Linked DNA regions of Homo sapiens: region 2 is linked to region 1. The links come from fine-mapping of genetic effects on gene expression. A gene starts in region 1. The other region holds a variant in brackets. All regions are shown on one strand. Distances are between the middles of the regions.

Region 1 (5,385 bases):
CACAAAATTTGGCAGGATGTTGCCAACACAGTGTCCCAGGAAAAAGTTATTCCTGATCCACAAATAAGATCCTTTTCCATTGTGGAGGATGATTTCTCAAACCATTGTAACTGGATGATACTGGCTAGTATAATGACATATCGTTTTCCTCCTGTTCTGATTCTATGCACATAAAATACTGTTTTAATTAAAATTTGGTTTTCCATACACATTTGGCTGGAGGAGAATGGGCTGATCACCCAAAATGAATATTTAGCCTGCTTGATATGTATATTTCTCATTGTAAATTAATGACTCAAACACCATTTTTGGACTCCCTAAACCAGAAGTAATTCTGTTTCTTCTAAAAACTCTTTACTTCAACTATAGCAATTATTTATTTTGCCTCATTATTGTTAGTTGTTTACATGTTTATGTTTGACCAGATGGTAAAAACCTTCAAGTATATGACTGTTTCTTTTCTTTTTTTTTTTTTTTTTTCTGAGACAGGGTCTTACTCTGTTGCCCAGGCTGGTCTCAAACTCCTGGGCTCAAGTGATCTGCCTGCCTTGGCCTCCCATAACGCTGTGATTACGAACGTGAGCCACTGCGCCTGGCCTAAATATTTCTAATTCTTTTTTTGTTTTCAGTTCCCTACTGTGAAAATTTAAGTAGATTCTTAAATGTTTGATGGATAAATGACTGGATGAATAGCATCATGTGATTATTCTCTTCCCAAGACTGAAAAGTAAACACCAAGATTGTACGCACCTTATTCTTTTCATTTTGAATAATTTCTAATAGCTGGTCTGTGTGCCCTTCTTCTATGCATCTTTGCCCAGCTAACTGAAATAGGCCAAAATCCTCTTCTTTAAAGTCTTGCTCTTCTAGGATTTGCTGGCAAAAAAAAAAAAAACCCAAAAAACAAACAAAAAAAAGTATATGCAAATAAAAATTAAATACAATAACTTCTTGATTTATCTATGAAAAAAGGAAATCTGTTTAAATTCTAGATAAATGTAACGTAAATAACACACGTATCAAAATTAGGATTACCCTAATAAATACTTTAATAAGTGACCTTGAAATCTACTGTACCAGTGAAATCTATGAAAAGGATCAGGATTAAAATGTAAAAGGTTATTTAGATAAGTATGTCACCTGGAGAAATAATCCAATCTGCCTCCCCCACTCATGCTCTTTACAGGTCAAAAAAAGCAAGGATTAAAGAAGATAAACAATTTGAGTGACCACAAATATAATTAAAAACAATCTGTGCCCTTCCCATATTTTGAAAGGTATTTAATTTTACAAAAATTAATACTTACACATCTCTTTATTATAGACTGAAGTTCCTCTACAGCCATTCTTATTTCTCCTAGTTTCGATGCTAAAATCTACAAATACAAAACACACTGTTAACTATCCGTGATATTACACTTAAGTATTCAAAAGTTATGTTTCAGTGTGATAAATTATTAGTAAATACAATAAAGAAAATGGAAAGTTTTTGTTGTTGTGTTTTTTGGTCCAATAGCATGCTAGGAGAAAATGTAAAGTTTTAAAGTTGAAATGTTATTACTGAATCTTAGTATGTTTGCCTAAGAAAATAAAGTGTTTTTTTAGAAGCCCTTATTGCATGTTTTAAGTTTTCTAGGAGCATAGTTTTGAAAGCTACTTTGAAGGAAAAAAAAACAAAAAAAACCTCTCGAGCACTCCCAAGAGGCGAGGCATATACGAACTAAAGGGCTTTTAAAAAGCAAAGCACTTCTTTTCTGAAAAAAAATTTCCAAAAGGTGGACCTGAAATCAAAATTCTAATCATCAGGGGATTTTTCATTTTTAATGTCTCACCTCACAAAAATTGGGGTGCAACACAAGCTTATCTATAGGGGGTGAAGATTCAGATGCCCTCCATTCCATTTCTCTCTAGGAGTTGCAGTCCCCAAAGTGATCAATCCAGCTAGTGAAATCACTGTATCACACGGAGACAAGACAACGGCGGCCTTCAGGAGGAGACCATCGCTTCTCCTGGCGGCAAGGCTCGGCCCCAAGCCCTCAGTAGGGGCGCGAGTCAGCCCGGTCCTCAGGGCAGCGCGCTGGAAGGCGAGTGAACACCCCAGCGCGCGTGCGGGCTGCATCAGAGGAAGCCATGTCTTCCGATTCCTGCTCGCCTAGGTGGGCAGGCTCCACCACCTCGCGTGGCCTAGTCGGCCCGCAGCACCAAGTCCGCCGCGGCTCACGGCCAACCGCGAGCCCTGGCCACCCTGAACCTCTCCACAACTCCACTTACCGGCCAGAACCCTCGCCTCTCCCAGCCGCCGCCACCTCCTCCGGCGTCTTAGCCCGCTCTTCTGGCCCCGCCCCGCGCTACGCGTAGGGAGGCGGGGCCTCGGGGCGAGACGCCGGAGCGTGTCCCCGTCCGGCAGACTACTCTCCCCCATGGCGGACTTCGCTGGGCCGTCTTCTGCCGGCCGCAAGGCCGGGGCTCCCCGCTGCTCTCGAAAAGCCGCAGGTAGGAGCAAGGATCTCTTCCCACTTTTGGACCCTGAAAGCTGGGCCCCGATCTCGAGTTATAGACCGCAGCGCGCGGGCGCTCCTGAAAGGCTGCTTCAGGGGAGGGGTTCTCCCAGGTAGAGTAGGCCGAAAGCTTCCCACCGCCGTCCGCACCTCCTGGGAAAGATTTCCTGGCCGCCCCTCACCCCTTTACGCCAGTGTTCCAAGATTTCCCTCACGCGGACTGTGGCCCCAGCCTCTGAGACAAAGGACAGTGGAGGCCCCGGGAACCCAGGCCTGGGGTCCCCGGGTTTCGGGGCAAGTGACTAGGGCAGCGTTGGCAGCTGGCCTTGAACCTAGGACCGGTCCTCCTTTCCAGATTGCTTGGGTGCCCAGTTCTTTAAGGTGCCGGACTCCCCTCTTCCCCCAGAGAGGACGTTTGGCAGACGGAGAGAGGTTTCCCCTAAAAGTACCCAGATCTCAGATTTTCAGGAGTGGTTAATTAAGCAACTATGATACAGAAGAAAATTCAATCCCCAAAGAGATACATTTTAACCAAGAAAAATTAGACAGTAATCAATTTGCAAAAACAAATTGCTCTCCCTTCCTATTTCATTTTGATTTACACACGATTGGACATAAAATATGTGGAAAAGAAGAAAAGGTGGTCTACAGTTTGTTATTTGTGTAGGAATCTATCTTGTACCTAATGTGTTTGTGTAGACCTGACCTACTGCCACCATGTGTAGCTTAACTGCGGGGATGCATTTTGAGAAATAAGTTGTTAGTCGATTTCATCCTTGTGTGACCATCATCGAGTGCACTTACACAAACCTAGATGGTACAGCCTACTTACACACTAGGCTATATGGTACAGCCTATTGCTCCCAGGCTACAAACCTGCACAGCATGTTACTGTACTAAGTACTGTAGGCAACTGTATATCTAAACATAGAAAAGGTACAGTAAAAATACAGTATTTTAATCTTATGAGACCGCTGTCTGTATGCTGTCCGTCGTTTACGGAAATGTCATTATGTAGCACATGACTGTATTTTTATTGTAGGTACTAAACAGACAAGTACTTTGAAACAAGAAGATGCTTCTAAAAGGTATGACAGCTACATGGACAACTACATTGGCATATCTACTTATCTTGTATTACTTGTACCAATTTTAAAACAATAATGGTTACCTTTTTTTTTTTAGAGAAAATTATCATGAGAGGGAAGGGAAAGATCTGGGAAGGCCTATAAATTCTCACATAGACTGTTACATTCCTCTACTCCAGGCTTTAAGAAAACCAAACTAAGCACTCAGACTGCTAGTGAAGGAATGAGTGTCTGTAGAAGGTGTTTGTTTTTCACCGCTTCAGGTACACTCTCCTTTTATTGCTTTATATGCCAGAGACTCACTCTCCAAGTTTCGCTGTCACTCCAAGAAACCTTTTCTGTTCTTTGTTACATCAAGTCCAGATTTTCATTAAAAAGCTGTCTTGTACTAGTTCTGGTTCTAAAAAGGCAAGATATTACCACATATCACACAGAGTTTCTAGAAGAGGAGTAGAATGTGAAGGGGATTAAAAGCATATGTAGCTATGATTTTTATTTTGTGAAGACTCACTAATCTTATATTGGCTTTGGTCTTAATTTACTCATTCTTTCAAAAATTATTTATTGAGTATAAGATATGTCGGACCTGTGTTAGGCTCTGAAGATATGGTGAACAGAATAGACACAGTTCTTGCCTAGTGGAACAGAGGAATAAATAATAATAAATTAATTAGTTAATTAACATAAACAAATACATAATTACAAATTGTGATAAGCACTATGAAGGAAAAGACTGTGATGTTACGAGAAGGAATAACGAAGTCTAATTTAGTTGGAGGTGGGTGGCAGGGAGGTTGGCTGTGAGTTTTCAGCGAAAGCCTTATGCTGAGACCTGCGTGCTAAGTAGACATTAACCATACAAAGAGTATATAAAGACTTATGTATGTGCAGTGCAAAAAGTAGCTTGTTTCCTTTTTGAAAAGTATTGGATCAAAAGTAACAGCATTAGAAAACAGAAATTTGGCCGGATGTGGTGGCTTATGCCGGTGATCCCAGCACTTTGGGAGGCTGAGGTGGGAGTGTTGCTTGAGGCCAGGAGCTCGAGACCAGTTTGAGCAACATAGTGAGACCTTGTCTCTACAATTAAAAAGAAATAAATATTTTTATTCAAAAAATTTTTTAAATATATTTAAATTTAAGTGGCAAAATAGTGAGTTAGGTTAGTATTGTATTTTAAAACATGGAATGTTGGACATGAAGCTTTTAAGTAGATTAAGTTTCTCTTTCAAATTTTAGGAAAGCTGAACTAGAAGCAGCTGTGAGAAAGAAGATTGAATTTGAGAGAAAAGCTCTACATATTGTTGAACAGCTTTTAGAGGAGAATATTACAGAAGAGTTCCTAATGGAGTGTGTATGTGTTAAGTTGACAAATTATTAGTTTTGTAGTATAACATCTTTAAATCTGTGCAGCATGAAACTTCTTTGCATTATTAGAATCTTTGAATTTGTTCTGAGTCATTAGATGCAGATAACAATCCATATAATTCATGCATTTAAAAATAAACAACTATCATGCATTCCTTGTATAATGACTTTAAAATGCACTAATGAAAAATAAGTACGTAACAAGGTGATGACACGTAATGTATATTTCAAAATTAATAAGAGTGGATTTCAAATGTTCTCACCACAAAGAAATGATAAATATGTGAGGTGATAGATATGTTAATTAGCCTGATTTGCTCAATGTATACATGTGTTAAAACATCACATACTACCCCACAAATATATACAATTATTATTGTCAATTAAAAAGCAAAAGAGGCCAGGCACAATGGCTCATGTAATCCCAGCACTTT
Region 2 (5,385 bases), 230 kb before region 1:
GCTCCACAGGGCAGGGATTTTTTTGTTGTTTTATTAACTGATACATATTCAAGTCTAGACTAAGGGCCTGGCATATTGTAGGCACTCAAACATTTGCTTAATGAATAAATAATATATCTGGCACACTGCTAGGCACTGCGGGGGGGTGGGGAATATAAAAGAAAGATAAGGTGGTAACATAGAACTTTCCCATAAGAAGCCTTAAGGGCTGGGTGTGGTGGCTCATGCTTGTAATTCCAGCACTTTGGGAGGCTGAGATGGGTGGATCACCTGAGGTCAGGAGTTCGAGACCAGCCTGGCCAACATGGTGAAACCTCATCTCTACCAAAAATACAAAAATTAGCCGGGGATGGTGGCAAATGCCTGTAATCCCAGCTACTTGGGAGGCTGAGGCAGGAGAATTGCTTGAACCTGGGAGGCAGAGGTTGCAGTGAGCCAAGATTGCACCACTGCATTCCAGCCTGGGCAACAAGAGCAAAAAAAAAAAAAAAAAAAAAAAAAAAAAAAAAAAAAAAGACGCATACATAGAATGCAGTCAAATTAAATAAAGGTTCAAGAGTAGAAATGAACATTATAAGTAAGAGTTGAAAAGAGTTACAGAATAGAGAACAATACCAACTCAGGGGACTACTACTCATTCTTTTGGGTTGTTCCCCTTTAACATGGGAGGCAACCAGTAACACTGCCAAATCACATCACAGAACAAATAAGCCCTAAATTGGTGAAAGGATTGCTTCCCTCATTAAGCATAGTTCTGATCGTGACAGAACAAAGGAGAATGTCCCTAAGAATTCTCATTACTGTATCACAGCAAGTTGTATTTACAACAAAAATCCAATTCTCTATACAACACATTGCTTCGTAACAACATGCAAGGTAGGTATCACCAATTTATAAATAGTAAAAATGTGATTTAACGTGTAACTTTGCCAATGCCCATAGTGTAAGTTCTGGAGCTAGGATCTGACCTAGAGCCATCTGGTGGTAAAGCCCATGATCCCACTTACACCAGATACCATTTAGCAGACTTGTGGTATCCACGCCACTCTTCCTGTTTCAGCAGTAATCTGGTGTGTTTCAATAGATGGCCATATCTCTCAGGAACCTACAATTTGACTTTTAATTTTGGGAGGGAAAAGGAATTCAAATTAGCCATTAGTAAACATAGGAATATTCTATAGAGCATTGTCAGAGTTGCAAATGCCACAAGGTATAGAAAAATCCTGGTTCATACCAACTTGTTGCTTCCCTCTTGATCCCTCCAGAAGGGCAGCAACAAGGGAAAGAATGGGACGTGTTGACACAGTAAAGTAATCCTGACTTATTTTAATAAAAACCTGTTACTGACAAAGGTGATTTTAAGATTTGTTGTTGTTGCTACTTATGTCAGTTTAGGAAGCTGACAAGTTCATGTGGACTAATTTTAAGAATTTATCAATCAAACATTCCATGGGCAATTCCGGCCTATTACAATGAATGTACTCTAATTTTTAATAGATATGGAAAAGTACTTGTAACAGATATAAAGCCTCAAGGGTGCCATCTTGAGTTAAACCTCTTAGGATAAACAGTTATTACTATCTCTGTAGAAATCTATTGGTAGGGCAAGTAAGTGAATTTGATTTACTAGCTGCCAAAGCAGCTCACAGTAAATAAAAACAGGTAATGGCACCTAAATTAAAAGTTGTAATTATTAATAATATTCATCTATTCAAATTAATATATCCCTAGTAGTATATAATATATGCCTAATTTAACATCAGAAATTGCTATGTGAAAATAATTTATTAGGCATATGTCAAAAGCAAGATGTTTGCAAAAAAAGAAAGAAAGAATGTGCTGTTGATATGATTCAAATTCTCCTGTTACATCATTTACCATCTTTGATTTTTCTGATTTTAAAGGTAATGCAGCATTTTCTATTAACCTACAATTTCCTCTAACAGTTCTAATTATGTGCAAACAGAAAAAGCAGTTGGATGTGGGGAAGGGTGCATGTCAAAGGCTGCCCCCAAATCCAGGCTACACACAGCCTGGGTCTGCTAAGTCGGTTTCACGGCTCTGCATCCACAGACTCTGAGTTGGAGGCGAAGGAGTCTGGGATCACGCAGGAGCTAATCAAGTCCTTGTATCCTCAGCAGACACGCCTCTGTGCATGGTGCTGGACCTGCATCATCCTCGTGGGTACGAATGTCCTGCATCGCCTTCCTCTTCATCTGGCCAGTGGCCATGCTTTCCACCTTTGGCTATCCTGCTCAAATCCTGCAACCCTGCCAAGAGTTGGAGAAAAAAAACTGGTGAAACCAGTACTCAAGCTCATGCTTCAGGTGGCTTTCTTTTTACTTGGGTTCCTGGCTAAAGTGAAAGGGAAAAAGGCAACCCAAGACAAGGCCCCTATCTTCGTTACAGCACCACGGTCCACTTTCTTTGACTCAATCCCCTGTGTGGTGGCAGGGTTACCCTCAGTGGTCTCTGCAAGTCAAAATGTGCAGATCCCATTGGCTGGGAAATTCCTACTGTCAACACAGCTGGTGCTTGTGATTTGAGAAGACTCCCATTCCAGGAAGAATACTAAGGATGAAATCCTGAAGTGAGTGACATTTGGAAAGAAGTGGCCACAGATTCTGATTTTCCTAGAAGGTGTGTGCATCAATCGCTCCCGTCTAGTCACTTTTAAACCAGGGGCCTTCTGTCCAGGTGTTCCTGTGTAGCCAGTGCTGCTCAGGTACCCAAACACCCTGGACATGGCAATCTGGACCTGGCAGGGATTCACAGCCTTACAGGCCTGTATGTTGACACTCAGTCAACTCTTCACCAGGGTAGAAGTTGAGTTTATGCCTGTTTATATCCCAAATGATGAAGAAAAAAAAGACCCCATCCTTTTTGCCAATACAGCACACATCAACATGGCAAATGCTCTAGGGGTGCCTGGGACAGGGCACACTTACGAAGGCTGCAGAGTGATGATCTCCGCAGGTAACCTTCAACTACCCGTAGAAGCTGGTTTGGTGGAATTTACAAACATTAGCCAGAAGTTGAAGTTAGACAGGGATAACATTCATCAGCATTTGGATGAATATGCTGCAATTGCAGTTGCCTCAAAAGGAGGGAAGACAGGAATTGAAGAATTTTCAAGTTATTTAAAACTCCCAATTTCAGAGCCCTTGAGACAACCCCCTGCCCACTTCGGCAGGAATAATGATGGCAACATAGACTTCAGAGAGTATGTAATAGGTCTGAAAAGAGTCTGCAAATGTCCTTTAAGCTTTTTGATCTTGATGCGGATGGTTTAA[TAACAG/T]AACAGGAGTTCGCTGCTATACTTTAGGCAGCTTTTGGAGTGCCAGATCTTGATGTTTCCAGGCTCTTCAGGAAATAGCTGGACAGAAATCAGTGTACATTTCATATGAGAGATTTAAGAAATTTGCCCTGAAGCATCCAGCATATCCCAACTTATTTAATTCACACCTAGACCTCCAGGCAGCCTATATATATTCATTACCCCAAAAAGTACAGTTTTAATCACTGTATTCAAATGTTACAAGTTAGCCCTGAAAACAGTGAAAGTATCTTCTAGGTAGAAATGATGATTGAAGTAAGAATTACTCTTTGAGGAAAAACTCAATAGTTTTCACTCTAAGAGGCATAGACAATTATGATATTTAAAATATGCTTGAGGAATATTTCAGTTAGATTTAATAGTATCTATTTTTCTTCTTTCTTAAGATAGCATTTGTTTTAATGTGACCTAAATGTAGAAGAACAAGTGATCTAGTCATAAACCTTGTTCACCCAGCAGGGTTCTAGTTAGTGCCTTTATTGTATTTAATGCTAAAATAAGGCCAGAGGAACATTAAAGCCTATCACCTGTCCCTCACTGTTGCAGAAAAAAATATCACATTAAGAGCTACACTTGGGCAAGCATGGTGGCTCACGCCTATAATTCCAACACTTTGGGAGGCTGAGGTGGAAGAATCGCTTGAGACCAGGAGTTTGAGACCAGCCCAGGCAACATGGCAAAACCCCACCTCTAAACAAAATACAAAATTAGCCTAGTGTGGTGGCGTGCACCTGTAGTCCCAGCTACGCAGGAGGCTGAGATGGGAGGATCACTTGAGCCCGGGGGGCAGATGTTGCAGTGAACAGATATTGCACCACTGTATCAGCTTGAGCGACAGAGATCCTATCTCAAAAAAGAAGAAAAAAAAAAAAAAGAGCTACACTGACAGTAAATAAAAACATTAAATTACCATTTGCATTTCCTCCAAAAAAAGAAAAGAGCTATATAAATACCTCTTTAGTCATTTGAAAAGTAGCCTCAATTTTCTTATTTTTCTTATTTATTATTATTATTTTTGAAGCAGAGTTTCTTTCTTGTTGCCCAGGCTGGAGTGTAATGGTGCAGTCTTGGCTCACTGCATCCTCTGCCTCCCAGGTTCGAGGGATTCTCCTGCCTCAGCTTCCCAAGACTCCTGGGATTACAGGCATGAGCCACCACACCCGGCTAATTTTATATTTTTAGTAGAGACGGGATTTCTCCATGTTGGTCGGGTTGGTCTTGAACTCCCGACCTCAGGTGATCCACCCTCCTCGGCCTCCCAAAGTGCTGGGATTACAGGCGTGAGCCACCGTGCCTGGCCACATTTTCTTATTTTTCAAGATAAAATAAATATTAGGAAGATATAGTGTGGGGAATACATTGCAACAATTATATATGGTATGCCTGTTCCCTGCTTGCCTTTTTAAAGTATAGAAGTGATTATTTAGAATGAGAAATCACAACAGATTAAAATTTCTGAAAACCTGTAAAAATATCATAAACATAGGTCATAAATATAGGAATTTTGACAAATTTCATTCTGTATGACTTTAATCAAAACACAAAAAAATGTGTTTATAATTAACATGTTCTGCATTACTGAAAATATTATTTTTGTTCCAATAAGGCATCAATGAGAATTGAAGCCTCTACTTATTTACACATTTATTTCCAATACCTGTCACTATGTGACATCTTCACATAGTGATGTGACCCTTGGGCCCTACCCCTTCATGTCACCATGCAGGATGAATCAGCAAAGTATTCCTGGAAACCATTCCCATACCCAGACAGGGAGCAACAACCTATCTAGACATAGAAGTGAATGTGAACTGATAAACATACTCCACCAGCCCTAATCACTGAATCCCCTACTTAGTTTCACTGTGACTGAATCTTAAAGATGGTTGTAGCTACTCAGTAGCACCAGATATGAGGTAACATTTGACCAAAGTTTGCCAACTTTACAAAAACATAACCAAGTAAACACATTTTTAGGGATGCTACTAGAACCCTAGAAGGGGCTTATGGAAGTGGGGCACCTAAAGCTTTAACTTCGTCAGTTTCCT

Which allele goes with the higher level. Positions count from the first base shown, and alleles are read on the strand shown. Sizes are in standard deviations (SD) of each study's normalised expression.
In carriers of allele T in region 2, the expression in testis of the gene that starts at base 2,334 in region 1 tends to be lower than with TAACAG alone (moderate effect, 0.43 SD a copy in GTEx).

The links. PIP is the estimated chance that this variant, and not a neighbour inherited with it, causes the effect. A credible set is the group of variants that fine-mapping cannot tell apart.
Region 2: its variant is the best candidate, but not a certain one, in a credible set for the expression of GLMN in testis (GTEx, PIP 0.80).

Annotation. Positions count from the first base shown.
Region 1 is chr1:92,296,654-92,302,038 of GRCh38, forward strand. GLMN (glomulin, FKBP associated protein) reads right to left here and starts at 2,334. Exons shown (of 19, transcript NM_053274.3): 1 at 2,272-2,334; 2 at 1,308-1,376; 3 at 751-876. The coding sequence starts at 1,346. RPAP2 (RNA polymerase II associated protein 2) reads left to right here and starts at 2,406. Exons shown (of 13, transcript NM_024813.3): 1 at 2,406-2,493; 2 at 3,541-3,586; 3 at 4,823-4,937. The coding sequence starts at 2,421. RefSeq lists enhancers at 1,432-2,328, 1,900-2,369, 2,590-2,819 and a silencer at 1,831-2,168.
Region 2 is chr1:92,064,252-92,069,636 of GRCh38, forward strand. It overlaps the pseudogene LPCAT2BP. Among named protein-coding and RNA genes, the nearest start is that of SETSIP, 8.5 kb to the right of the region's middle. The variant TAACAG/T (reference allele first, on the strand shown) is at 3,294.